7 linked regions of the Homo sapiens genome follow. The protein of the gene in region 1 interacts with the protein of each later gene in a biochemical or structural test. Each region holds a gene or a part of one and is shown in the gene's direction. Other genes may lie near its edges. The genes, in order: RAPGEF6, ABCA2, JAM2, RPS6KA3, PARD3B, CLDN3 and KCNT1.

What was found.
Region 2: the proteins of RAPGEF6 (region 1) and ABCA2 interact in a test that uses a peptide from one of them, tested with the Homo sapiens proteins (one large-scale study listed by IntAct).
Region 3: the proteins of RAPGEF6 (region 1) and JAM2 interact in a test that uses a peptide from one of them, tested with the Homo sapiens proteins (one large-scale study listed by IntAct).
Region 4: the proteins of RAPGEF6 (region 1) and RPS6KA3 interact in a test that uses a peptide from one of them, tested with the Homo sapiens proteins (one large-scale study listed by IntAct).
Region 5: the proteins of RAPGEF6 (region 1) and PARD3B interact in a test that uses a peptide from one of them, tested with the Homo sapiens proteins (one large-scale study listed by IntAct).
Region 6: the proteins of RAPGEF6 (region 1) and CLDN3 interact in a test that uses a peptide from one of them, tested with the Homo sapiens proteins (one large-scale study listed by IntAct).
Region 7: the proteins of RAPGEF6 (region 1) and KCNT1 interact in a test that uses a peptide from one of them, tested with the Homo sapiens proteins (one large-scale study listed by IntAct).

What each region holds. Positions count from the first base shown.
Region 1 is NC_000005.10:131,457,230-131,460,729, reverse strand, and holds part of RAPGEF6 (rap guanine nucleotide exchange factor 6), read left to right. Parts: intron 1-3,500. UniProt on the Homo sapiens protein: Guanine nucleotide exchange factor (GEF) for Rap1A, Rap2A and M-Ras GTPases. Does not interact with cAMP.
Region 2 is NC_000009.12:137,008,986-137,011,237, reverse strand, and holds part of ABCA2 (ATP-binding cassette sub-family A member 2), read left to right. Parts: coding exon 1-52; intron 53-132; coding exon 133-265; intron 266-500; coding exon 501-618; intron 619-866; coding exon 867-1,045; intron 1,046-1,113; coding exon 1,114-1,255; intron 1,256-1,334; coding exon 1,335-1,469; intron 1,470-1,593; coding exon 1,594-1,697; intron 1,698-1,775; coding exon 1,776-1,868; intron 1,869-2,184; coding exon 2,185-2,252. UniProt on the Homo sapiens protein: Probable lipid transporter that modulates cholesterol sequestration in the late endosome/lysosome by regulating the intracellular sphingolipid metabolism, in turn participates in cholesterol homeostasis.
Region 3 is NC_000021.9:25,645,758-25,649,257, forward strand, and holds part of JAM2 (junctional adhesion molecule B isoform 1 precursor), read left to right. Parts: exon of another isoform or gene 1-1,375; intron 1,376-3,500. UniProt on the Homo sapiens protein: Junctional adhesion protein that mediates heterotypic cell-cell interactions with its cognate receptor JAM3 to regulate different cellular processes. Plays a role in homing and mobilization of hematopoietic stem and progenitor cells within the bone marrow.
Region 4 is NC_000023.11:20,165,910-20,169,409, reverse strand, and holds part of RPS6KA3 (ribosomal protein S6 kinase alpha-3), read left to right. Parts: coding exon 1-8; intron 9-1,662; coding exon 1,663-1,821; intron 1,822-3,500. UniProt on the Homo sapiens protein: Serine/threonine-protein kinase that acts downstream of ERK (MAPK1/ERK2 and MAPK3/ERK1) signaling and mediates mitogenic and stress-induced activation of the transcription factors CREB1, ETV1/ER81 and NR4A1/NUR77, regulates translation through RPS6 and EIF4B phosphorylation, and mediates cellular proliferation, survival, and differentiation by modulating mTOR signaling and repressing pro-apoptotic function of BAD and DAPK1.
Region 5 is NC_000002.12:204,544,169-204,548,274, forward strand, and holds the start of PARD3B (partitioning defective 3 homolog B), read left to right. Parts: upstream 1-1,306; 5' UTR 1,307-1,831; coding exon 1,832-1,951; intron 1,952-4,106. UniProt on the Homo sapiens protein: Putative adapter protein involved in asymmetrical cell division and cell polarization processes. May play a role in the formation of epithelial tight junctions.
Region 6 is NC_000007.14:73,768,497-73,771,404, reverse strand, and holds CLDN3 (claudin-3), read left to right. Parts: upstream 1-1,134; 5' UTR 1,135-1,355; coding exon 1,356-2,018; 3' UTR 2,019-2,408; downstream 2,409-2,908. UniProt on the Homo sapiens protein: Barrier-forming claudin. Plays a major role in tight junction-specific obliteration of the intercellular space, through calcium-independent cell-adhesion activity.
Region 7 is NC_000009.12:135,782,185-135,785,684, forward strand, and holds part of KCNT1 (potassium channel subfamily T member 1), read left to right. Parts: intron 1-1,839; coding exon 1,840-1,941; intron 1,942-2,350; coding exon 2,351-2,434; intron 2,435-2,576; coding exon 2,577-2,705; intron 2,706-3,125; coding exon 3,126-3,146; intron 3,147-3,500. UniProt on the Homo sapiens protein: Sodium-activated K(+) channel. Acts as an important mediator of neuronal membrane excitability. Contributes to the delayed outward currents. Regulates neuronal bursting in sensory neurons. Contributes to synaptic development and plasticity.

The sequences.
Region 1 (3,500 bases):
TGAATAGAGATTAACAGAGTGGTCTTTAGAATCAGCTGCACCTGTATTTGAATCCTGCCTCTCCCATATAGTAGCAATGTGTCAGTGGAAAACTGAAGATAGGTTTTCTTATCTGTAAAATACCACCTATATCACAGTTTTTAAACAGCTAAGTCTAAAACAGAGGAATAAAGATGCCACTGATAAACACTTGGAAGGCTAGAAATGGAACCTGTTTGTAAAGGAAGCATCAAGTAAAGAATTTGAAAATTACGGGCTCAGTTTTAGAGTCCACTATGAAGAAAATTGATTGACACTGAGAGAATAGATCTCTGTATAAAAAAGAGGGTAGAAAGAAAGTGGTAGAGGTCTAAAAACCATACCTTAGTATGATGACTCAGTGTGAGGGTAAGGAAAAAGAGTCTAGCCAAAGAGATGGAGGATCAGTACAAGAAACAGAGTAGCACAGTTATGATAGTGTCATCAAAGCCAATGAAAGAGAGTGATTTGAGAGAAGATGTGATGGACAGTAGCCCAAAGAAGGGAGTGGATAGGAAAGGGCTGAGATTTGGTTAAGAGGCTTTGTTTGGTTAAAAGATTTGTTTTGTTACAAAGAATATTTGTTCTGCACATTTTCATAGCTCATGTAAAGATCATTGCTTTGTTTCTTTTGTATTCTTTTTAAGATAATTGTTTTGTATTCTTGTACTTCATGTTCAGGTAGATCAAAGAATATACTCTTTTCAGCAGAGATGGCAAAGGTGAATCATTCTGTTCTGGCTATAATTAACAACTTTTTATAATTATAAAATAATTTTAACTTTTTGAATAGACATGACATGTACATGGAAAAAATTTTAAAGATAAAGAGTACACAGCGAAAGTAACTTTGTCTCACCCAGTCCCTAATCCACCCAAATTCCTCTCCCCAGAGATACTGTTACCTTTTTTCATTCAAGAAATACTCTATCCATATAGCAAGCATATAAATATATATTTAAAACCACCTTGGCTAATTTTTTTAATTTATCTTGGAGATTATTTAAAATCAGTTCTTATAAAGTTGTCTCATATTTTTTAAACAACTATGAAGTACTCCTTTGTATTGTGGAGTGCACATTATGGATATTTCTAAATTTCCAGACTTTGGCTATTTAAAACAGTGTGTGGTGTTTACTTTTGCCATGTAGAAATTTTTTTATTTTTATGTAGATGTATTATTTTTTTTCCTGCTGGAGTTTCTGCATTTTGTGGTTAGTTAAGAACAAAGAATTGCCTAGGTTTGAATCCAGTGTTGGCACTTGTTGTCTATGTGAACTAAGTTTCCTCATTTGTCAAATGGGAAATCCTGGTAGTTCCTACCTAATAAGGTTAAGAGTATTCAATGAGCTAATACAATGAGAGCTCTTAGAACACCCTAGACAACATTTTTTATTAATCTTGAATTCATTTTTATGTAAACAGTGAGATAAAGAAATATATCTTTCTTTGTTCCAAATGACTTCTTCACCCAACATCATTAATCAATCTTTTTTTCTAAAATATGCAATGCCATCTATTATGTACTGAAATCTAACACATATTTGGGTTTATGTCTGCACTCATTGCTTCATTGATTTGTCTATTCATTTACTGTTTTAGTTGCTGAAGTGGTAAAATAGGTTTTAAGGTCTGATAGGGCTAGTCAAACCCCTTATGACTCTCTTCATACTTTTCTTTGGCTATTTCTGGCATGTTTATTTGTTTCATATCAACTTTAGAATCAATTTATGTAGTTCTTTTAAAAAGTTTTGTTGATGTCTGGGCGCGGTGGCTCACGCCTGTGATCCTGGCACTTTGGAGGCCAATGCAGGTGGATCACAAGTTCAGGAGTTCTAGACCAGCCTGACCAACATGGTGAAACCCCATCTCTACTAAAAATACAAAAAAATTAGCCAGGTATGGTGGCACATGCTTGTAATCCCAGCTACTCAGGAGGCTGAGGCAGGAGAATCACTTGAACCCAGGAGGTGGAGGTTGCAGTAAGCCAAGATCATGCCACTGCACTCCAGCCTGGGTGACAGAGCAAGACTCTGTCTCAAAAAAGAAAAGAAAAAGTTCTGTTGATGTTTTCATTGAGATTACATTAAATACCTAGATTACTTTAGTGGACATTTGATAGCTTTGTAACAATGGCTCTTGCCATCCAAGAACACTTATTCCACTTGTTTCAGTTTTCTTTTATTTCCTCTGTGGAGTTGTTTTATTAGTCTGTTTTCACACTGCTGTATAGAAATACCTGAGACTGTGTAATTTATAAAGAAAAGAGGTTTAATTAACTCACAGTTCCCCATGTCTGGGGAGGCCTTAGGAAACTTACTATCATAGTGGAAGGCGAAGGGCAAACATGGCGTGTCTTACATGGCAGCAGAGAGAGAGAGAGTGAGGGGGGAAGTGCCACACTTTTAAACCATCAGATCTCTTGAGAACTCACTGATTATCATGAGAACAGCGTAGGGGAAATCTGCCTCCATGACCCAGTCACCTCCCACTGCGTCCTTCCCCTGACATGTGGGGATTACAATTCCACGTGAAATTTGGGTGGGGACACAGAACCAAACCATATCAGTTTTTATAGTGGTGTTCATGTAAATCTTGAACATTTGTTTGAATGTTTAATATCTTTTATTGCTGTTGTGAATGGGATCCTTATATTATGAATGGGATCCTTAAGTTTTCTAATGGTTTCTGCCTAAGTATTCTAATGCATATGAATATCAGTGTTGTACCTAGTACCTTACTGCATTCTTCATGCTTCTAATAATTTTCAGTTAATATTTTGGGAGTTTTGAGTTAAACAATCTAATTTTCTTCAACTGATGATAACTTTACATCTCTCATTCCATTTATTAATAACTATTTCTCTATTTTGTCTATTTTCATCTGCTGGTGCTTCATATTAAATGATACCATTGTCCCTCAGTATCTGTGGGGCATTCGTTCCATGGCTCCTCACAGATAGCAAAATCCTCACATACTCAAGTCCTGCAGTTGACCCTGAGGAACTTGTGGATACATAAAGTCAGCATTAGCAGGTTTCACATCCAAGGAAACTGTATTTTTGATCCACATTTGGTTGTGAATGTGGAACACTCAGATACGGAGGGGTGACTGAATTTATTGAAAAAAATCTGCATATAAGTGGATCCATGCAGCAGTATTCCACGGTAGCAGGAGTTAGCCTTGTATGTGAATTGTTTTATCCTTTACTTTTTCTTAGTAAATGGAGATTGTGGCAGCATTAGGGCTGCTTACAACTCAGAGTGTCTCCCTTCTCTCCTGTCTCAAACAGATTTGTACCAAAGTGTATCACTGTGTGCTATGCCAAATAAAGGATTGTTGGCTTGGCATGGTGGCTCATGCCTGTAATCTCAGCACTTTGGGAAGCCAAGGCAGGCAGATTACTTGAGCTCAGGAATTCAAGACCAGCCTGGCCAACATGGTGAAACCCTGTCTGTACTAAAAATATAAAAATTAGCCAG
Region 2 (2,252 bases), on another chromosome or scaffold:
CTCATGGAGATGGCCTACAACGAGTACATCAACGAGTACTACGCCAAGATTGGTGAGGGGGCCCGTGGGGCGGGGAAGGCGGTGGGGGCCCCGCAAGGCCCAGAGCACAGGCCCTGAGCTGTCTCCCCGCAGGCCAGTTTGACAAGATGAAGTCCCCGTTCGAGTGGGACATTGTCACCCGCGGACTGGTGGCCATGGCGGTTGAGGGCGTCGTGGGCTTCCTCCTGACCATCATGTGCCAGTACAACTTCCTGCGGCGGCCACAGTGAGTGGGGGGCGGGGTGGGGCGGGGGCGGGGCGGGAGCAGGGATGGGTTCGGGGGTGGGGCAGGGTAGGGGCGGGGGTGGGGGCAGGGATGGGGCAGGAGGGGGTGAGGCAGGGGACAGCAGAGGGGCCTGCCCACCCTTCTTACATGCCACAGCCAGAGGATGCGAGGCTGGTGGCAGGGAGGGGCAGTGGGGGTGGCGAGCTGCTGGACACTGTCCACCCTGTCCCCCAAGGCGCATGCCTGTGTCTACCAAGCCTGTGGAGGATGATGTGGACGTGGCCAGTGAGCGGCAGCGAGTGCTCCGGGGAGACGCCGACAATGACATGGTCAAGATTGAGAACCTGACCAAGGTGGGCTCTGGGCATGTAGGGTGGGGCCTGGGTGGGGTAGGCCAGGGCCAGGGGGGTGGGGCCCCAGCAGTGGAGGTGGAGCCTGGGTGGGCAGGGCCCTGAGCTCTGGGGGTGGGGCCTGCATGGGGTGGGGCTGTGGGGCACGTGGCCCCCTGGGCTCTGGAGGTGGGGCAGGGTCTGGGTGGGGTGGGGCCAGAGGGGCAGGGTGGGGGCAGGATGCCCCGCTGAGTGGGCAGGCTCCTGGCCAGGTCTACAAGTCCCGGAAGATTGGCCGTATCCTGGCCGTTGACCGCCTGTGCCTGGGTGTGCGTCCTGGCGAGTGCTTCGGGCTCCTGGGCGTCAACGGTGCGGGCAAGACCAGCACCTTCAAGATGCTGACCGGCGACGAGAGCACGACGGGGGGCGAGGCCTTCGTCAATGGACACAGGTGGGGCGGGAGCCCTGGGTGGGCGGGGCCGCCGCGTCCTCACGCGCTGACAGCTGCCGTGTCCCCAGCGTGCTGAAGGAGCTGCTCCAGGTGCAGCAGAGCCTCGGCTACTGCCCGCAGTGTGACGCGCTGTTCGACGAGCTCACGGCCCGGGAGCACCTGCAGCTGTACACGCGGCTGCGTGGGATCTCCTGGAAGGACGAGGCCCGGGTGAGGATCTGTGGGGCGGGGCAGGGAGTCAGCACGCTGGGTGGCCCTGCCTCCACTGACACCTGCGTTCCCTGGCCAGGTGGTGAAGTGGGCTCTGGAGAAGCTGGAGCTGACCAAGTACGCAGACAAGCCGGCTGGCACCTACAGCGGCGGCAACAAGCGGAAGCTCTCCACGGCCATCGCCCTCATTGGGTACCCAGCCTTCATCTTCCTGGTAAGTCCTGGGTGGGTGGGGGGTGGCTGCCTGGCCTTTGACTTCCTGGTGAGCACGGGCAGGGGCAGCGTTCAGGCTGGGGTGTGTGGGCCTGGCAGCAGCTGAGCCTGCCACCCATCCCCAGGACGAGCCCACCACAGGCATGGACCCCAAGGCCCGGCGCTTCCTCTGGAACCTCATCCTTGACCTCATCAAGACAGGGCGTTCAGTGGTGCTGACATCACACAGGTGAGGGCGCCCCCACCCCCTCTTTGTGCCCCCACCCCACAGCACCCCTTCCGGTGCCAGCCTGTGCATGTCCCACAGCATGGAGGAGTGCGAGGCGCTGTGCACGCGGCTGGCCATCATGGTGAACGGTCGCCTGCGGTGCCTGGGCAGCATCCAGCACCTGAAGAACCGGTGAGCCGGGGCAGGGCCAGGGGTGGGCTGGGGCGGGCCCGGGGGGGGCGGCCAGGCAGCGGGGCCAGGAGTGGGGGTGGCTGCAGGGCTGTGAGGGCTGTGGGGCCAGGGGGGCTGGGGGCACTGGGGCTGGGGGGACTGGGGCAGTGGGGCCAGGGGAGGAGCCTGGAGGGCTGTGGGGGCTGTGGGGTTGGGGGGCTGTGGGAGGCTATGGGGCTTCCTGGGGTGCCTGTGGGGGCTGTAGGGCTGGGAGGCTGGGGGGCTGGGGCTCTGGCTGGGCGGCGCAGGGCTCCGGGCCACCGGCCTGTCCCACCAGGTTTGGAGATGGCTACATGATCACGGTGCGGACCAAGAGCAGCCAGAGTGTGAAGGACGTGGTGCGGT
Region 3 (3,500 bases), on another chromosome or scaffold:
CACACCAAGGCTATATGGTGTAGCCTATTGCTCCTAGGCTACAAACCTATACAGCATGTTACTGTACTGGATACTGTAGGCAACGGTAAACAGTTGTAAGTATTTGTGTACCTAAACATATCTAAACATGGAAAAGGTACAGTAAAAACAGCACAAAAGATAAATGGTACACCTGTGTAGAAACATATCATGAGTGGAGCTTGCAGGACTAGAAGTTGCTCTGAGTGAGTCAGTGAGTGAGTGGTGAGTGAATGTGAAGGCCTGGGACATTACTGTATACTACTGTAGACTTTATCAACACTGTACACTTAGGCTACACTAAATTTATAAAACAATAAAGTTCTTGTGTTACAGCAGTACGGGCGTTATAGCATCACTAGATGATAAGAATTTTTCAGCTCCATTATAATCTGTGGGACCACTGATATGGTTCATTGTTGACCAAAATGTCATTATGCAGTGCATGACTGCATTTGAAATGTAGTTAATTAAATCTGATCAGGAATTTAAGAAAAATGGCTCTTTGGTTTTTAAGGAAAAAATTTTTTAATCATGTGTGCTGTGTTTTCAACTTTCTGTTCAGTTCCCAACCTATAAACATGAAACAGTAGCTCTTTTGGTTACTATGTATACCTTCTTTCAATGTTATTCTCTCTCCCACACGTAAGTTTATTTTCAGTATTTGTTTCCAGTGTTTCCAGAGTTTCCCTGAGTTGTCACCCTTAGAATGGTCATTTTACTTGATTTGATATTCAGAAGAGTGGCCTTCTAAGTTCCAAAGTGTGTGAGTGTATGCATGCATCGGGTGTGGGGGGAAAGAGAGAGAGAGAGAAGGAGAGAGAGAGAGAGAGGGAGGATGGATGGATGTGTGCTCAGATAAATGCCTGCTGACAGCAACACAAAACCCTACTCTATGAATCTTCAGGCCAGTGAATGGGTAGGAAATGCTCTCCAGTTTGAATTGTTCCTACATTTTATGAGCAGAGAAGCAAATCCTGTGAAAGTATTTCAAGAGCTGCCCTCTTAGCTGTCCATTGTCTTGGCTCAGAAAGTCCTAAGGAAGAATCCTTGTAAACTTAACAGACAGGAATTTTGGTTTTTACTGGAGAGCTCTGCTTTTCTTTATCGCATGTCATCAGCATCAAATTTTTATTTGTTTTGTTGGGTTTTCTGTTTTGTTGTAGTTGTCAAAATTTTCTACTGGGATAATTTAGGACGGGCTTGTCTTTATATTTGTAAGGAGTAAAAATGCATAACCTGGTCTGTCTTCTTTATGCTAGGTTTGTCCAATTTGCTTGCTTTCATTTTGTCAATGCAGTCACCTGCTGTTTTTACTCTTCGCTTTCTTCACATTGTGAAACTTCCTAAATACATACTATGGACAAAACCAAAGATAAAAATGAATGAATTGTTAAACACATTTTCTTATATGTCTAACTAAAAATAATATATGCTTAGGGTAAATTCAAACAGAGCAGTAAGTTTACAAAACAAGAAATAAGTCTCCTTTCCAGCCTTCCTGACTCCTTTGCTTCTCAGATAGACCATCCTTAAGTTTCCTGCAAATGGTTTCAGGAAATTAGAAAAGAAATAGTTCCAGTATATATAAGCATACTCTTATAATTTCTTTAGAAATAAAGATCACAATTTATTATGCTTACTGCTGTATACCTTCCAGAAAATCAAATCATATTATATATAGTGTTGTGCACCTTGCTCCAAAAAGTTATTTATGTTAGTAATTAAGGTACAACCTAAAGCTCAGTCTACAAGCAGGACAGAAGATAACATCTTATAGAGGCCTTTAAAATTGTTGCACCAAAATGCAGTGGGAGCTATTTTCTAACTAGAACCACCAAAAATAATGGAACAAAATGATTAGTAAAACAAAGGGAAATAAACTTCCAAACCAGTAACCAAATATGGAAAGGGAAAAATTCCAAGCAAGATCCAGTTAAAAAGTCCAAAGGAGAACGTGTGTGCACCCAGAGAGGACAGAGACACTAGCACCAGCTAAGATTCACAGACAAGTGCAAAGGGGTGCTATTTTTAAAGGAGACCAAAGAGGAAATAATGACCACAAATAAAAAGGGAACATGTCAAACTTCTGGGCAAGTGCTAAATTTGAAAAGAGAGAATGGTGTTTATGTTTTTTAAAAAATGCACTAGAGGGCTGGGCGCTGTGACTCACGCCTGTAATCCCAGCACTTTGGGAGGCCAAGACGGGTGGATCACCTGAGGTCAGGAGTTTGAAACCAGCCTAGCCAACGTGGTGAAACCCTGTATCTACTAAAAGTACAAAAAGTAGCTGGGCATGGTGGCATGCACCTGTAGTCCCAGCTACTCAGGAGGCTGAGGCATGAGAATCACTTGAACGTGGGAGGCGGAGGTTGCAATGAGCTGAGATTGTGCCACTGCACTCCAGCCTGGGCAACACAGCAAGATTCTGTCTCAAAAAAAAAAATTCACTAGATGCATTTTCAAATAGGAATGGATTTTGATCAGAAGCAGAACTGACACAATGGAATAAACAATAACTCAAGTATGCATTTGTCCAATAACTGAAACATGCAGCCATCTATGTCATAAAACATTAAAATTGTACCTAAGCATATTGGAGACATGAGATTATTGTACTGTCCATATAGTGCTTTTGGATCCAGAACAAGTCAGGTTCTTTTGTGCCGTGTGTTTGTGTGTGTGTGTGTGTGTGTGTGTGTAAACGAGTGAACATCTATGCCATTTTATCTAGATACAGTACTTCTTCCCAACCTCCATTCATCTCTGTTGTTGTTGCTATTGTTCCTCATATGGCCAAATGCAATTTCTCCCTGAAGGTCTAACTCCAAAATTCCTTGCGCCTTCTCTTAATTCTTTCCAACTCATCAATTCCTCAAAGCTGATGTCTACTGTATATTATACTCTGGTGCTTTTGGTATATTCTTTATTCTCTTATGGCACTTACTGAGCTGTACTGTTACAATTTTTCCATGTATATCTCTCTGTATTGTGAGCTTGCTGGAGGCAGAGACAACACATCTTTAGGTCGTTGGTACCTAGAGTACTGCCTGGCACATTTAATACTTGATTAAGTAGAATTACATAAGCTGGAATTTAATGTTTATTTGTTTTGTAGCTTCATAAAATTATATAACTTTTTAGCAATAAAAACCTCAAGACATATGTAAAATTAATAGTCTCAAATGAATGCATAATATTACTGCTCCTAAAACTCCCTCCTCCTCTTTTTAACAGTGGCCTCCCTAAGATATAAGGAAATATAAAGACTGGTCTGCCTTATAGGATTTTAAGAAATTTTCCAGATTTCCTGATGCCTCCTTATATCCTAAAAGCACATAAGTTCCTCTTGAATTAGTAAGCATTGATTAAAAACTCAGATGAGTCAAACAATACACCCCTCAAAAGTTGCTTAATCTAGACTAGAACAAAGCACGTATTAGTGTGTTCTCACGCTGCTGTAAAGGACTGCCCAAGACTGG
Region 4 (3,500 bases), on another chromosome or scaffold:
TAAAGGATGTAAGTAGATTCTTTAATATGGATCATTTGAATCAGTTGTCTAACTCACATTGAAAGTAGTGTATTTTCAAAAATCATGTGGTAGACAAAGAACTCATCATAGGCTGGGCACAGTGGCCCACGCCTGTAATCCCAGCAGTTTGGGAGGCCAAGGCAGGAGGATCACTTGAGGCCAGGAGTTCAAGACCAGCCAGGTCAACACAGTGAGATCTCCATCTCTACAAAAAAAAATTTTTTTTTAATTAGCCAGGCCGAGCACAGTGGCTCACACCTGTAATCCCAGTACTTTGGGAGGCTGAGGCAGGAGGATTGCTTGAGCCCAGGAGTTCAAGACCAGCCTGGGCAACATAGGGAGACCCTGTCTCTAAAGAATATTTAAAAATTAGCCTGACATGGTGGCTCATGCCTATAGTCGCAGCTACTCTGGAGGCTGAGGTGGGAGGATTGCTTCAGCCCGGCAGGTCAAGACCTCAGTGAGCAGTTATCGCACCACTGCACTCCAGCCAGCGCAGCAGAGCAAGACCCTGTCTCAAAAACAAAAACAAAACAAAACAAAATTCAACATGGTAAGTTTAAAAAGTAGATTTGAAAACAATTTATATGTGTATATGGCATAATTTCATTTATCAATAAAGATATGTTTGTACAGTTATTTTTTTCTACTTTTGCTTTAAGAAGAAAAGTACTTACGATATTATTGCTTTTAATATCTGCACTTACTTGAACACTTACCTAAATGTTCAGTGTTAATATTACTATTAGTTCATATTCAATATTGACTAGTCTCACTCTCCAGACTACCCCAAAGTATCTTCCACATTACTAGAAAAGAGATCTAACACTCATAACTACCCATTTAACTTCCCTGCCTACAGTCTAAAGTCCCCAGCCGCTTAAGACCCTGCCTTCCTCTGTAGTTTTCAGACTTCTCACACACCCTTTCTCATACACCTGATGCTCTGTGTTCTAGTATGTAAATTTCTTGCGCATGCCTCATTTTCCATGCTGTTATGTCTGAATTTATAGTTCCCTCAGTTGCCAACACCATCTATTTTCTTTACCTGGCTAACTACCACACATATAAGATTTTGCTAAGGCACTGCTTCTTCCAGGAAGCCTGCCCTGCCCATTGCCACCCCCAGGACAAGTAAAGTATCTTTCCCTGGACTGTCATGATAACCCTGTTGCCTATGTCTCTCTTGACTTTTATTATAACAAAGTGTTGGCAAACAGTGTGAACTCCCCAGGTAGTGTTAAGTCTTCTCTTGCTAATGATGCTCAATAGGCCCAAAGGCCTTATCTGGGGGTTGTCAAAACTCAAATTTCCTCAGATTATCCCTGCTCATGGAGACACAGCAAAAGCTCGTCTCTACAAAAAATGCAAAAATTAGCCAGGTGTGGTGGCATGCGCCTATAGTCCCAGCTACTTGAGAGGCTGAAGTGGGAGGATCGCTGGAGCCCAGGAAGTGGATATTGCAGTGAGCCAAGATTGTGCCAGTGCACTCCTGGGCGACAGAGTCTGTCTCAAAATAAATAAATAAATAAAATTTGTCTTGAATATGAAGTGAGTTTAATTTTTCCTTTATATTTTAAACTTCGTTTTGGGCACATATAGTTTCAAATAATATTTACATTTTGATGTTGAAATTTATAGGTATATGATGATGGAAAGTATGTGTATGTAGTAACAGAACTTATGAAAGGAGGTGAATTGCTGGATAAAATTCTTAGACAAAAATTTTTCTCTGAACGAGAGGCCAGTGCTGTCCTGTTCACTATAACTAAAACCGTTGAATATCTTCACGCACAAGGGGTAAGTCTTTTTACCACTCTATATGTACATACACACACTTTTTTCCTTTATGTTTGAGCTAGAATTAGATAGAAATTACTTTATGCCTGAAATGGAAAATAACTGCTATTAGCTGAATTATCCTACTGACCTTCCTCTATATAAACTTTTATTATTGAGATTGAAGTGTACCTTTGATATCCTAGCTTGTTTATGTTAAACTCTTGTGCTTCCAAGAAAAAGTAAGTGATCTCTTCCGACCTGGAAAACATAGCATTGTTTCTGCTAGGTCACTCTGTACTCATGAAAACCAGGCCCACTTCAGGTTAGAAGCAGAACCAAGGAATCCTGGTTTGTATTCATGTATAAAAGGAAATCCTTAAAACAATGAGGCCAAGGAGTCACATGCTTCGGCTGGTGGATATGCTCTTCGTTCTTCTTGTATGCAGATTTTTAGTAAACAGCAAAAGAAAATTGTATTTCTAGGCTGGGCACGGTAGCTTATGCCTGTAATCCCAGCATTTTGGGAGGCCGAGGCAGGCAGATCACTTGAGGTCAGGAGTTCGAGAAAATCGTATTTTTAAAACAAGGCGGCCGGGTGCAGTGACTCACGCCTGTAATCCCAGCACTTTGGGAGGCCAAGGTGGGTGGATCACCTGAGGTCAGGAGTTTGAGACCAGCCTGGCCAACATGGCGAAACCCTGTCTCTGTTAAAAGTACAAAAATTAGCCGGGCGTCATGGCTCATGCCTGTAATCCCAGCTACTCAGAAGGCTGAGGCAGGAGAATTGCTTGAACCCGAGAGGCGGAGGTTGCAGTGAGTTGAAATTGCACCACTGCACTCCAGCCTGGGCAACAGAGTGAGACTCCATCTCAAAAAAAAAAAAAAAAAAAAAAGAAGGGAAGTCTGGGAGGAAAGGAGAAAATGAGGGGAGGGAGGGAGGAAAGGAGAACAGCAGAGGAGTGAAGCAGAGGAGCAGAAAGCAAGGGGAAAATAAACAATTTTTTAAAAATTTTTTAGTTGACAAATTATGTATATTCATGGTATACAACATGATGTTTTGATACATGCATATATAAAAGATTACTTCTTAAGGAGTTCAGTTTCAATACATTCTTTTTGTTTTGTCTTTGCCCCTGAAAGCCAAGTAGAATGTGTTAATTCTGGAGCTTCCTGACTTCTAACTTATCAAGATTTGCCTAGTATTGTAACTTGAAATTAGTAGAACTCAGTAGTCACTGAGGAACTTATGACCTTGCAGTCATCAAAGTCTTCTGTGTTCTTTTCCCAATGCCTCATCAGTAATTCGTTATTAAAATAGTCTGGAGAAGTGATGTCCTGGATGTGAGGAACTAAATCTAATTTGATTGATTGGAACACAGACTCAGAATTTGGTGACAGAAGGCACACTTAAGTCTAAAAAGGAATGTCAGAGAAGCTTATGATAAAAAAGTACAGTAGTCCCCCACTAATCTGCAAGTTTGCTTTCTGTGGTTTCAGTTACCACAGTCAACCATTGTCAAAAATATTACAGTATTTTGAGAGACCACATTCATATAACTTTTATTACAGTATATTGTTACAAGTGTTCTAATTTATTATTAGTCATTGTTAATCTCTTACTGTGCCTAATTTATAAATTAAACTATATCATAGGTATATATATCTAGGAAAAAATATAGAGAGACTTCGGTATTATC
Region 5 (4,106 bases), on another chromosome or scaffold:
GCCTCAATGGAGTGCCCTCTGGATCTTCTGATTTTATGAGGTGATCAATTCTGTCTTTGGTTTATTTAAATGTAAATTAGTTTGTATTGGATTTACAACCAAATTACAATGGACTTGGTTTACGTGATCCTCTTGGTTTGCCACTGACTTTCTATACATAGAAGACAACCAATATATACTTACTGAATGTATGAATGAGCTAAAATTTATTTTTTTAAAAAACCTCTTGAAACCCATGAATTTAATCTCCTCTGCATTATCATACCATCCTAGGCAATTCACGTTCAATTTAAGTGTGTCCACATAGGAGCACATCCTTCTGTAGAGAAACACATGATGCAGCCCTGAGGGTCTTGCTGGATGAACTGGATGGCTAAGAAAACTGCAGGGAGAGACCAGAGATTGAGCTCAGAAGACCTGAGTTCTTTTCAACAGAACTAACACCATGGTCTGCTCAGTCTCTTGACCTCTCCGAGCACCATTCTTGATGCACAAGATGCGAAGAATAATATCTACCTACCGGGTAGTTGTTAAGCTCAAAGGAGCTCATTTACATGAGAGCTAAGAATGAAACTAACGTAATTTGTTGGTTTCCCCCACATATTCCCATTTCAATTGGTGATGGATACACACCTGCCAAATCATGAGCCTAAGGGTGTTAACTTTTTTTTTTCCTAATAAAATGCACAACGGTAGTCGCATTCCAGAAGGCTATGTGTCAACACACGCGATCATATCTGGGTCTTGGGTGTGACCTTTGGCCAAATACTCAGTGTCCTCGAGGGTCTGTAAAAGGAAAAGTTTCCACTGGCGCGTTCTCTCCAAGGTTCGCTTCAGCTCTGCTATCCCAGGGCTCCTGATGGCAGCGGCACGGGCTGTGCTTAAGGCGAGTTCCTAACAGGCCCTCGGGGCACTCCTGCATCTCCGCACCCGGCAGCCTCGCCCCTTGGGTGTTTTTGGTGGGCGTGACTAGAAGCACCTGCTCCTGGGCTCCTTTTGCATCTTGCTGCAGTCCCCTCCTGTGAAGGGCGCAGCTCTGCAGTCTCCTCGCTCTTCCCTCGGGTGTTCTTTCTGAGATCCGGTTTCAATCCTCGAGCGTGTAGCCCTCAGGTCCCCTTACAACTCCCCAGAGCTCCGTGTGCATGCGTGCGAGAGGGAGAGAGCCAGGGAGAGACCCAGGTGACGAGACGAGGCTCCCGGGCTCCAGTTACTGGCCCGCAGGGCCGGGGCACGTCGTCGCCCAGCGTGCGGCGGGGCCCGGGAGCGCCGCGGCCCCTTTAAGAGCCGGGCCCAGGCCGTCGCCGGGACCGCAGGAGCCCAGAGCGCGGGCGCCGCAGAGGAGTTGGGAGCCGGCGCAAAAGTTTCCTCCCAACTCTGGCCCCGTGCGCCGCCGCCGCCGCCGCCCACTCCAGCCCCCGGCTTGGGGCCGGCCCTGCCAACGCCGCCAGGGCCAGGGCCAGGGCCAGGACCAGCGACAGGGCAGGGCCGGCAGTTTCGCTTTGGTGGGCGCGGAGCAGCCGCCTGGGCCGGGCAGGAGTAGGAGCGGGAGGAGGAGGAGGAGGAGCCGGTGCCGCGGAGCTGCCGCGTCCCGGGCCGCCGGGCACCTGGGAGGTAACCCCTTTCCGCGGCCGCCCCTCCCCGATTCCCGCCACCTGCCGCCTGGCCAGGTGGAAGGGGCGCTGCCGCGAGCCTCCGGGCCTCAGGGTGTTCCGGGGAGCGGCGCCCCGGGTCTCTGGGCCCACCCGCCCCGGGCGTCCTCCGAGAGTGGGGGCTGCGCCCGCGGGGTCAGACACCTGTTCGGCCCGGCCCGGCGTGGTCGCCGGGGGCCAGGATGAAAGTGACCGTGTGCTTCGGCAGGACGGGCATCGTGGTGCCCTGCAAGGAGGGCCAGCTGCGCGTCGGCGAGCTCACCCAGCAGGCGCTGCAGCGGTACCTGAAGACCCGGGAGAAGGTGAGCGCGGCGCGGAGGAGTGGGGCGCGGCTGCAGCCAAGGCACCTGCCAGGTGCGACCCGGTGGCGACACTCAGGGGATGCAGAAAACCCAGGGGATTATGGGGCACTGCCTGTAGCTGCAGCTGTTGTCTATTGCTAATATCAGTGATGTGGGTGTCTTTGGGTGTTTGTGGGCCTTGAGCTCCGAGGGTCGTGAGTGGACCTGCAGCATTGGAATCTCTTGGGAGCTTCTTAGAACTGCCCAATATGGGCAGTTCTCCAAACCCACCGACTCAGGATCTGCTCTTTAACGAGATCCCCAGGTGATTGGAATGCCCACTGAAGTTTGAGAACCACTGGTTTAGAACTTGTTTGAGGGAACGTCTTAAAAGGTGCTGCTCACCTAAGTGTGATTTTTGACCCATTAAGGCCCGCCTCACTTAGGCTCCTTGGAGTTAGAAAGTTGATTGTGCAAGTGACACATACTCGGAAGTTACAACTGATGGGGCCTTTGGAGTTTCAGCCTTGTGAGCTGCCCTGTCTCAGTGACTTGGGCAGGAACACAGGTGGGAGCATGCTGTTTGCTTAGCCAACCTGTCTACATTTTGAGTGTTTTCAGTTTAATGTCACAGATTCTATGACCATTTACTATGTGTGTGGGCTGTTGTCAGGTCCTGAGTGACTATTAAAATGAGAAAGACGTTCCTAGCTCTGTAGCTGAAGTCAGGAACAAGTATAAATTAAGTGACAATTTTTTTTAAGTGTGCAATACATGTTGAGAAAATATCTGGCACTAGAACTTATGCCAAGTATTTGGGTAACATTGGGCCTCTGGGACTTCCTCAGTGAAACTTTTAAAGGAAGGCATTGAATAACCTTTTAATTTTTTGAATCTTCACATGGAACATTTTGTATGTCCCAAATGCTCCTCAAACAGGGCAAGTCACAAATTCTTGTTTTAGCGGCCAATGGTTCTCTTAATATTTGGTCTCGTGCCATGTGACTAAAATAGTGGGTTGGTCAATCTAGTGATGGAAAAACGTAAGTTTTAATTTCTTTTAACTTCTTATCGGTTATCCAAAGCATAAAAGTAATTGTTTCTTACAAGTGTATAGCTTAGGGGTTTAAGAAAATACTTGCACCTTCTTTGCCTCCATGAAGAATTATTATACAGAAAAAAAATTCAGCTCTGGACAGATACATGTGCATATTGCTTTGGATACTCAAGAACTGGAGGAGAGTACAATGAAAGGTCTATTAATATATTAAATATAACCCCTAAAGATGAACTCTTTACTGATGGAATTGAGGTGGAGGAGGGAAAAAATTAAAGTGGTTTATAAAGCTGTGTGAAAATCAACTGCAATGTTATGTGTGTGTGTGCACGTGCATATGTGTTTGCCATTGTTAAAATAGTGTTTGCTGTTTAAATCATGTAATTCAGTTAACTGATGTTTAAACAAGTAACCAATTGTCTATTAAATCATATTTCACTAACTTTTGAAAGTGAGCTAAGATTAATAGTAACAACATTACTCCAGACAGATTATTGAAATAGATCTCATTGAGGGATTGTCTTACCAAATTGAAGTTACTTTTTAACTATTAAATAATTTATGCCCTCAAATCTTGTATATTTAGAAGTTTAGTACAGGGGGCTATCCAAGTAAGAGATAAACTACAAGCTTGTAAATAACATGAAGAGAACTAACCAGCTGATATTTAATTCACTATAATTTGATCTTAAAAGGTGTTAAAATATTGACATTCTGGAATGGAAACGTAACTTATAATATCACAGAACAATGTAGTTGCATTGATCAGTTTACTATTATTACCAGACTTATATTTTTCTGTTTACATTTATATATTAGTGAATGTGACATTTAAAGGTCACCTGCAGCATATAAATCCTTCCTCTTATTTTCACTTTTAAAATTTCATTTTAAGAAGTAGTAGGTGATGATTTTTCCCCTCCCCAAGTATTCTTCTCCCATAGTTTTATTTTAAATAATATTGTAATCATAACAAGATTTAACGAATATTAAATCGTATTCATAATGGCACTAAAAGGTCAATAAATACCCTAACAAATTCCATGCTTTTATTCATTTTTTTTAAATGAGAAAAGGCCAGAAATGTCAAAATTCAATTTGAAAAACAATGTGTAGTAA
Region 6 (2,908 bases), on another chromosome or scaffold:
TTTTTTTTTTTTTTTTTTAAACAGGGTCTGCTCTGATGCCCAGGCTGGAGTGCAGTGGTGCGATCATAGCTCACTGCAGCCTCGAACTCCTGGGCTCAAGTAATTTCCTGCCTGAGCCTCCGGAGTAGTTGGGACTATAGGCACACGCCACCACACCTGGCTAGTTTTTTAATTTTTTGTAGAGACGGGGTCTCACTATTTTGCCCAGGCTGGTGTCGAACTCCTGGTCTCAAGCAATCCTCCCTTCTCAGCCTCCCAAAGTGCGAGGATTACAGGAGTCAGCCACCACGGTGCTCGGTCCTGCCCGATTTCCCACTTTTGCGGAGATCGAACCTCTTTCACCACCATTTCATTAAGGTGGGCCTCAGCCCTGACTCAGGCTCAAAGGGAGGGAGGACAGGGCTCGGAGAGGGGAGGGGACTCAATGGGAGGAGGGGGACTTCTGGGAGGGGAGAGCAGCTTAGCTAAAGGCATGCAGGCTCACGGCCAGCGATGGGAACTGGAGGGAGAGCTGGAGAGGAATTTGAGCTTAGTTAGGCTTAAGGGCATCTTTTGGGTACCTTTGCGCAGGCAGTCCCTGGCTTCTGGGCCCAGCAATTCCTGGGCTGGACAACCCCACCGCCCGGACTCAGGCTGAGCCTGTGCGACGTGTGTACGGGAGGGGCAGAGCAGCAGGTGCGCGGCTCCTGCAAACAGCCGCGGCCACGCCCACCCTGGTCCTCCCCGCCCCGCCGTTCCGGGGTAATTGGCAGCGCCCCCATCCCCACGCGGCACGTGCCAAAAGCGCCCAAAGTGGTGAGGAGAGAGAAGCCGTGTCAAATTCTTTGGGATTTGCACCCCAAGCCCCTGACGCATCCCGTCCTCGGTTTTGCCCCGGAGAATTCATTCCCGAGCAGAGAGGGACAAGGACCGAGGGGCGGGGGCTGGGTCAGGTCCCGCCCTTCCTTGGCAACCCCCCTACCCCGGCGTTGTGGGCCGCGCAGGGCCAAGTCCTTCCTCCCAGGACGCTCGGTGAAGGTGGGAGGCAGGGGCCACGTCACTGTCCTTAGGCCCTGGAGAGCGCGGCTCCGCCCCTACCGCCCCCACCGGAGCGCTGGGCACTTAGCTAAGACGCACCGGCCCCAGCCCAGGGCCAGCCCAGTCGCCGCCGCCCGCCCACAAAGCCACAGGCAGGTGCAGGCGCAGCCGCGGCGAGAGCGTATGGAGCCGAGCCGTTAGCGCGCGCCGTCGGTGAGTCAGTCCGTCCGTCCGTCCGTCCGTCGGGGCGCCGCAGCTCCCGCCAGGCCCAGCGGCCCCGGCCCCTCGTCTCCCCGCACCCGGAGCCACCCGGTGGAGCGGGCCTTGCCGCGGCAGCCATGTCCATGGGCCTGGAGATCACGGGCACCGCGCTGGCCGTGCTGGGCTGGCTGGGCACCATCGTGTGCTGCGCGTTGCCCATGTGGCGCGTGTCGGCCTTCATCGGCAGCAACATCATCACGTCGCAGAACATCTGGGAGGGCCTGTGGATGAACTGCGTGGTGCAGAGCACCGGCCAGATGCAGTGCAAGGTGTACGACTCGCTGCTGGCACTGCCACAGGACCTTCAGGCGGCCCGCGCCCTCATCGTGGTGGCCATCCTGCTGGCCGCCTTCGGGCTGCTAGTGGCGCTGGTGGGCGCCCAGTGCACCAACTGCGTGCAGGACGACACGGCCAAGGCCAAGATCACCATCGTGGCAGGCGTGCTGTTCCTTCTCGCCGCCCTGCTCACCCTCGTGCCGGTGTCCTGGTCGGCCAACACCATTATCCGGGACTTCTACAACCCCGTGGTGCCCGAGGCGCAGAAGCGCGAGATGGGCGCGGGCCTGTACGTGGGCTGGGCGGCCGCGGCGCTGCAGCTGCTGGGGGGCGCGCTGCTCTGCTGCTCGTGTCCCCCACGCGAGAAGAAGTACACGGCCACCAAGGTCGTCTACTCCGCGCCGCGCTCCACCGGCCCGGGAGCCAGCCTGGGCACAGGCTACGACCGCAAGGACTACGTCTAAGGGACAGACGCAGGGAGACCCCACCACCACCACCACCACCAACACCACCACCACCACCGCGAGCTGGAGCGCGCACCAGGCCATCCAGCGTGCAGCCTTGCCTCGGAGGCCAGCCCACCCCCAGAAGCCAGGAAGCCCCCGCGCTGGACTGGGGCAGCTTCCCCAGCAGCCACGGCTTTGCGGGCCGGGCAGTCGACTTCGGGGCCCAGGGACCAACCTGCATGGACTGTGAAACCTCACCCTTCTGGAGCACGGGGCCTGGGTGACCGCCAATACTTGACCACCCCGTCGAGCCCCATCGGGCCGCTGCCCCCATGCTCGCGCTGGGCAGGGACCGGCAGCCCTGGAAGGGGCACTTGATATTTTTCAATAAAAGCCTTTCGTTTTGCACTCGCTGGAGCCTCCTTGTTCCCAGCGCCTCCACCTCCCTGCAGAGCTCCCCCTCGGGGCGGCCTTGGCTGGATCTCGCTCTCCCGGATGGAGCTTAGAGGGAAGATGGGGTTGTAAGCTGAGCTTGGTGATGGCGGGGTGGTCACTTGCCCACTCCCTGGGGATTCGGAAGACAGCCTGTGAGGCCAAAGCCAGCGCCCAATCTAGGAAGCAGGCATGAGCACTTTCCGCACGCCATGGCTGGGGATGGGAGGGGAAGGTGGCAGAGATGTGCCCCTGGGTCTGTGCTGGGAGCCCGGACCCCGCACAATACCCGACACATTCGGAATCTCCCGTGCGCCTTGTGAAAGAGCGCATTCCGTACTGCCATTTCCTATTGGAAAAACGAAAACAAAAAGACCTATTGTTTGGATAAAACACGCCACCAAAAGTAAAACCGGGCCAAATCTTCTCACCTGGGGGAGAGATGAGAAAGGGTCCCCATCTCCTTCCTGGGACCC
Region 7 (3,500 bases), on another chromosome or scaffold:
CAGAGCGAGACCCTGTCTCAAAAAAAACCAAGCAAAAAAATGAAACTATTATTAAGGATGCTGCTGGTGGGGTGACATGCATCTCCCCTTGAGGGCTGGCTCCAGAAGGCTCTCAGAGCCCCGGTGTGTGAGAGGAGTCTCTCCCCTGAGGCCCACCTCCCCTGCCGTCCACCTCCCCTGGTCTCCAGCACCCAGGACTCCTCCACCACTTCATTGCTTTCACATGGTCAGCCTGTGTGATCTCTCCTCCTCACCAGGAGCCTTCCTTCAGGCTGGCTCTGCCCATCCTGGGGCTGCACGGTGCCTGTCCTGCTCCCTCTGACCGGGGGTCTCGTGCTCAGGAAGGGCTCATCCGCTCCTGTGTGCTCCTGTCTTCACTGTCACTTGTGAATGGCACCCGCTCAGCCCCTGCTGAAGCCCTCCTGTCCAGAAAGCAGGAGGAAATCTCTGGAAGGTCCTGAAACGTCCAGCTTTTTCTTTCCTTCCACGTCTCTCTCTGGCCCTGTCGTGGTTCTTGTTTCCTGTTTAGCGTTGTTCTGAGTAAAGGAAAATTAAAATTGCAAGTTGTTCTGGAATTTCACGTTCGTCTCCGCGAAGTACGGCTGGAATTCTGGATGCAAATCACCACGATTGCAAACTCACACGCCCATCGCAGCTCATCGCACCTGGTTCTTGCCCCAAGAGCGGAAACGCCGCACGAAACTAATTCCACTGTTTCTCACGCCCCAGCCTTCCCACCGGCCACTGATGAGTAAGGGCGAACCCGGAGGAAAAGGGGCTTCTGCCTGCTTGTCCTGTCGCTGTCGTGTCTTTTACCTGTGAATCGAGTTCTGGTTCCGGGGGGAAGTGTGGCCTCCGTGGGCGCACACGCCTGCCTGTGCACACTTGCTTGGAGGCCGAGCTCCAGGGTTGGGGCCCTCCGCTGAAGAATGACCCGAGAGTTGGCCACGGCCGGGTCCGGAGCCCGTGGATGTACCGCCTCACGTGACAGAAGGGCCTCTGCAGATGGGATTAAGTCACGGGCCTCGAGATGGGAGATCCTCCTGGAGCATCCGGCAGGTTCACGCCGTCAGGGTCCTTCTAGGGAGAGGCCAGAGGTCCCCATCCGGTGGGAAGAAGCTGCACGGCCAGCTCAGAAGAGGGAAGAGGGAGCCACAAGCCAAGGCAGGTGGCCTCCAGGAGCTGGAAAAGGCAAGAGAAGGAGGCCCCCAGGCCTCCAGAGGGAGCGGGGCCCTGCCCAGGCCTGGATCCAGCCTGAGACACCTCAAACTCCCGACTCCAGAAACGGGAGAGAGGAGACAGGTGTCGTTTTAGCTGCTAAGTTTGCGGTCATTTGTTACGGGAGCCCCAGGAAACTCAGTGGGTCCATTGCAAGCCTGGAGCACAGGGACGGGGAGGCCAAGGACAGCAGGGAGCCCGATGCTTGCTCCTCCTCAGCCCAGACTCCACACGCCCTCCGGCACCACTTACAAAACACCGGGGGAGGAGAGGATTATCAGGAGGATTTGGAATTTCGGGATGGCAAGAGCAGGGCGCTTGACCAAGCGCAGTGCCCATGGCAGCCGCCGGGAGTCCACCTTCTCATCAGAGCCCCACATCACTCCTCCCGGGCTCTGGCCCTGAGTGTGTCTGGGAAGATAGAGCTGGTTCAGGCCTGCCGGTGTATGCACACATGCAGACACACACTGTGTACACGTGGACACACACACCATGCACAAATGTGCACACAGGTATCATGCACACATGTACGGTGCACACACAGTGCCCTCGACCCCGTGGCTGCCGTGCCACTGGAGGGACCTCGGCACCAGCCCATCTGAGGCCCCTCCTTTCCCACAGAGGGAGCGAGAGAATGGCTCCAACCTGGCCTTCATGTTCCGCCTGCCGTTCGCCGCCGGCCGCGTCTTCAGCATCAGCATGTTGGACACACTGCTCTACCAGGTCAGCGGGGAAGCGGCAGCAGGAGGGTGGCGCCTGGGTGGGACCCCCGTCATGCCCTCAGCTCTTCAGCCTGGTCCCTGTTCTGAATGATAGGACTCCCTCTGAATGACCTTCCCTGGATTCCAAGGAGACCTCTGGGCCCTGTCCTTGCCCCAGGGATTTCTGGGCCCTTTTTGACCTATGGGTGCCTGGCAAGGGAGTTTTCTTAGAAAAGGCCTCCCAGAACTCTGCCTGTGGGTCATGTGGTGCTTGGGGACCTGGTGGTTCTGTGTGTGTGTATGCATGAGGGGTGGCGAGCCCGTGGCCGGTGGGGTATGGACCTGTGTCCCACGCCCGTGCCCGCGTGCCTCACTGTGGCTCCCTCCCTCCCTCCCTCCCTCCCTCCCTCCCTCCCTCCCTCCCTGGCCAGTCCTTCGTGAAGGACTACATGATCACCATCACCCGGCTGCTGCTGGGCCTGGACACCACGCCGGGCTCGGGGTACCTCTGTGCCGTAAGTGCCCCTGGCTGCGCTGGGCTGGGGGCGTGCTGGGCTGTCCAAGTGGGTGGATGGGCACCTGCCCCTGATTCACGGTGGCCAGGAGGCTCTGGGTGCTGCCACCTGCCCCAGCCAACTCAGGGTTCCCACCCTGCAGATGAAAATCACCGAGGGCGACCTGTGGATCCGCACGTACGGCCGCCTCTTCCAGAAGCTCTGCTCCTCCAGCGCCGAGATCCCCATTGGCATCTACCGGACAGAGAGCCACGTCTTCTCCACCTCGGAGGTTCTGGGGCAGCCTGGGGGCTGGGACTGTGGCAGCCCCTGTCCTGTGTGACCCACAGCATCCCCACCTTCCGGGGGCTGGGACTGTGGCAGCCCCTGTCCTGTGTGACCCACAGCATCCCCACCTTCAGTGTCAGGGACCTGGGCTAGATCAGCTTTGCTATTGCTGGCAGCTCCTTCCGTCTGGTCCGTGTGCCCACGTGTAGCGCTTCCAGCTGGAGCAGCCATGACCCCTACCGGGGGCAGAGAGGCTCAGGGGAGTCTTCAGGAAGAATACGGGCAGCCCCTGTGCTGCAGTCCACACAGCAGCAGGCACCGTGCCCACCAGCCCTAAGCATGTTCCGTGCAGACCCCAGGCTGAGGCGGCGTGGGGGGCAGGGGTGCGCCCACAGGTCCCAGACTGCGCCTGTTTCCTTTGCAGCCCCACGACCTCAGAGCCCAGGTAAGCAACCCCTCCGTGCCCACGCAGCTTCTGCGGAGCACCAGAACATCGCAGCTTCACATGGAGAAGCCTGCCAGGCCCCACCCACCCACCCACCCACAGGGCCCTGGGAAAGCCGAGGCAGGAGCGGGTCCCACGGATGTGTCGGCCCCAGCACGGCTCAGAGAAGGCTGTTGACACTCACTCCCTCCTGCACTGGTGGTGGGGAAGCTGAGGCCTGGGGGGAGTAGCCTGTGAGTTTGGACACCAGGTGCACCCCCGCCCCCTCCCAGGCCCCACCAAGGCAGGCAGCCCCCATGCCCATCTGGCCTGACCAGCCCCCAGCCTCCCAGGCCTTTCTGAAGGTGCCACCCA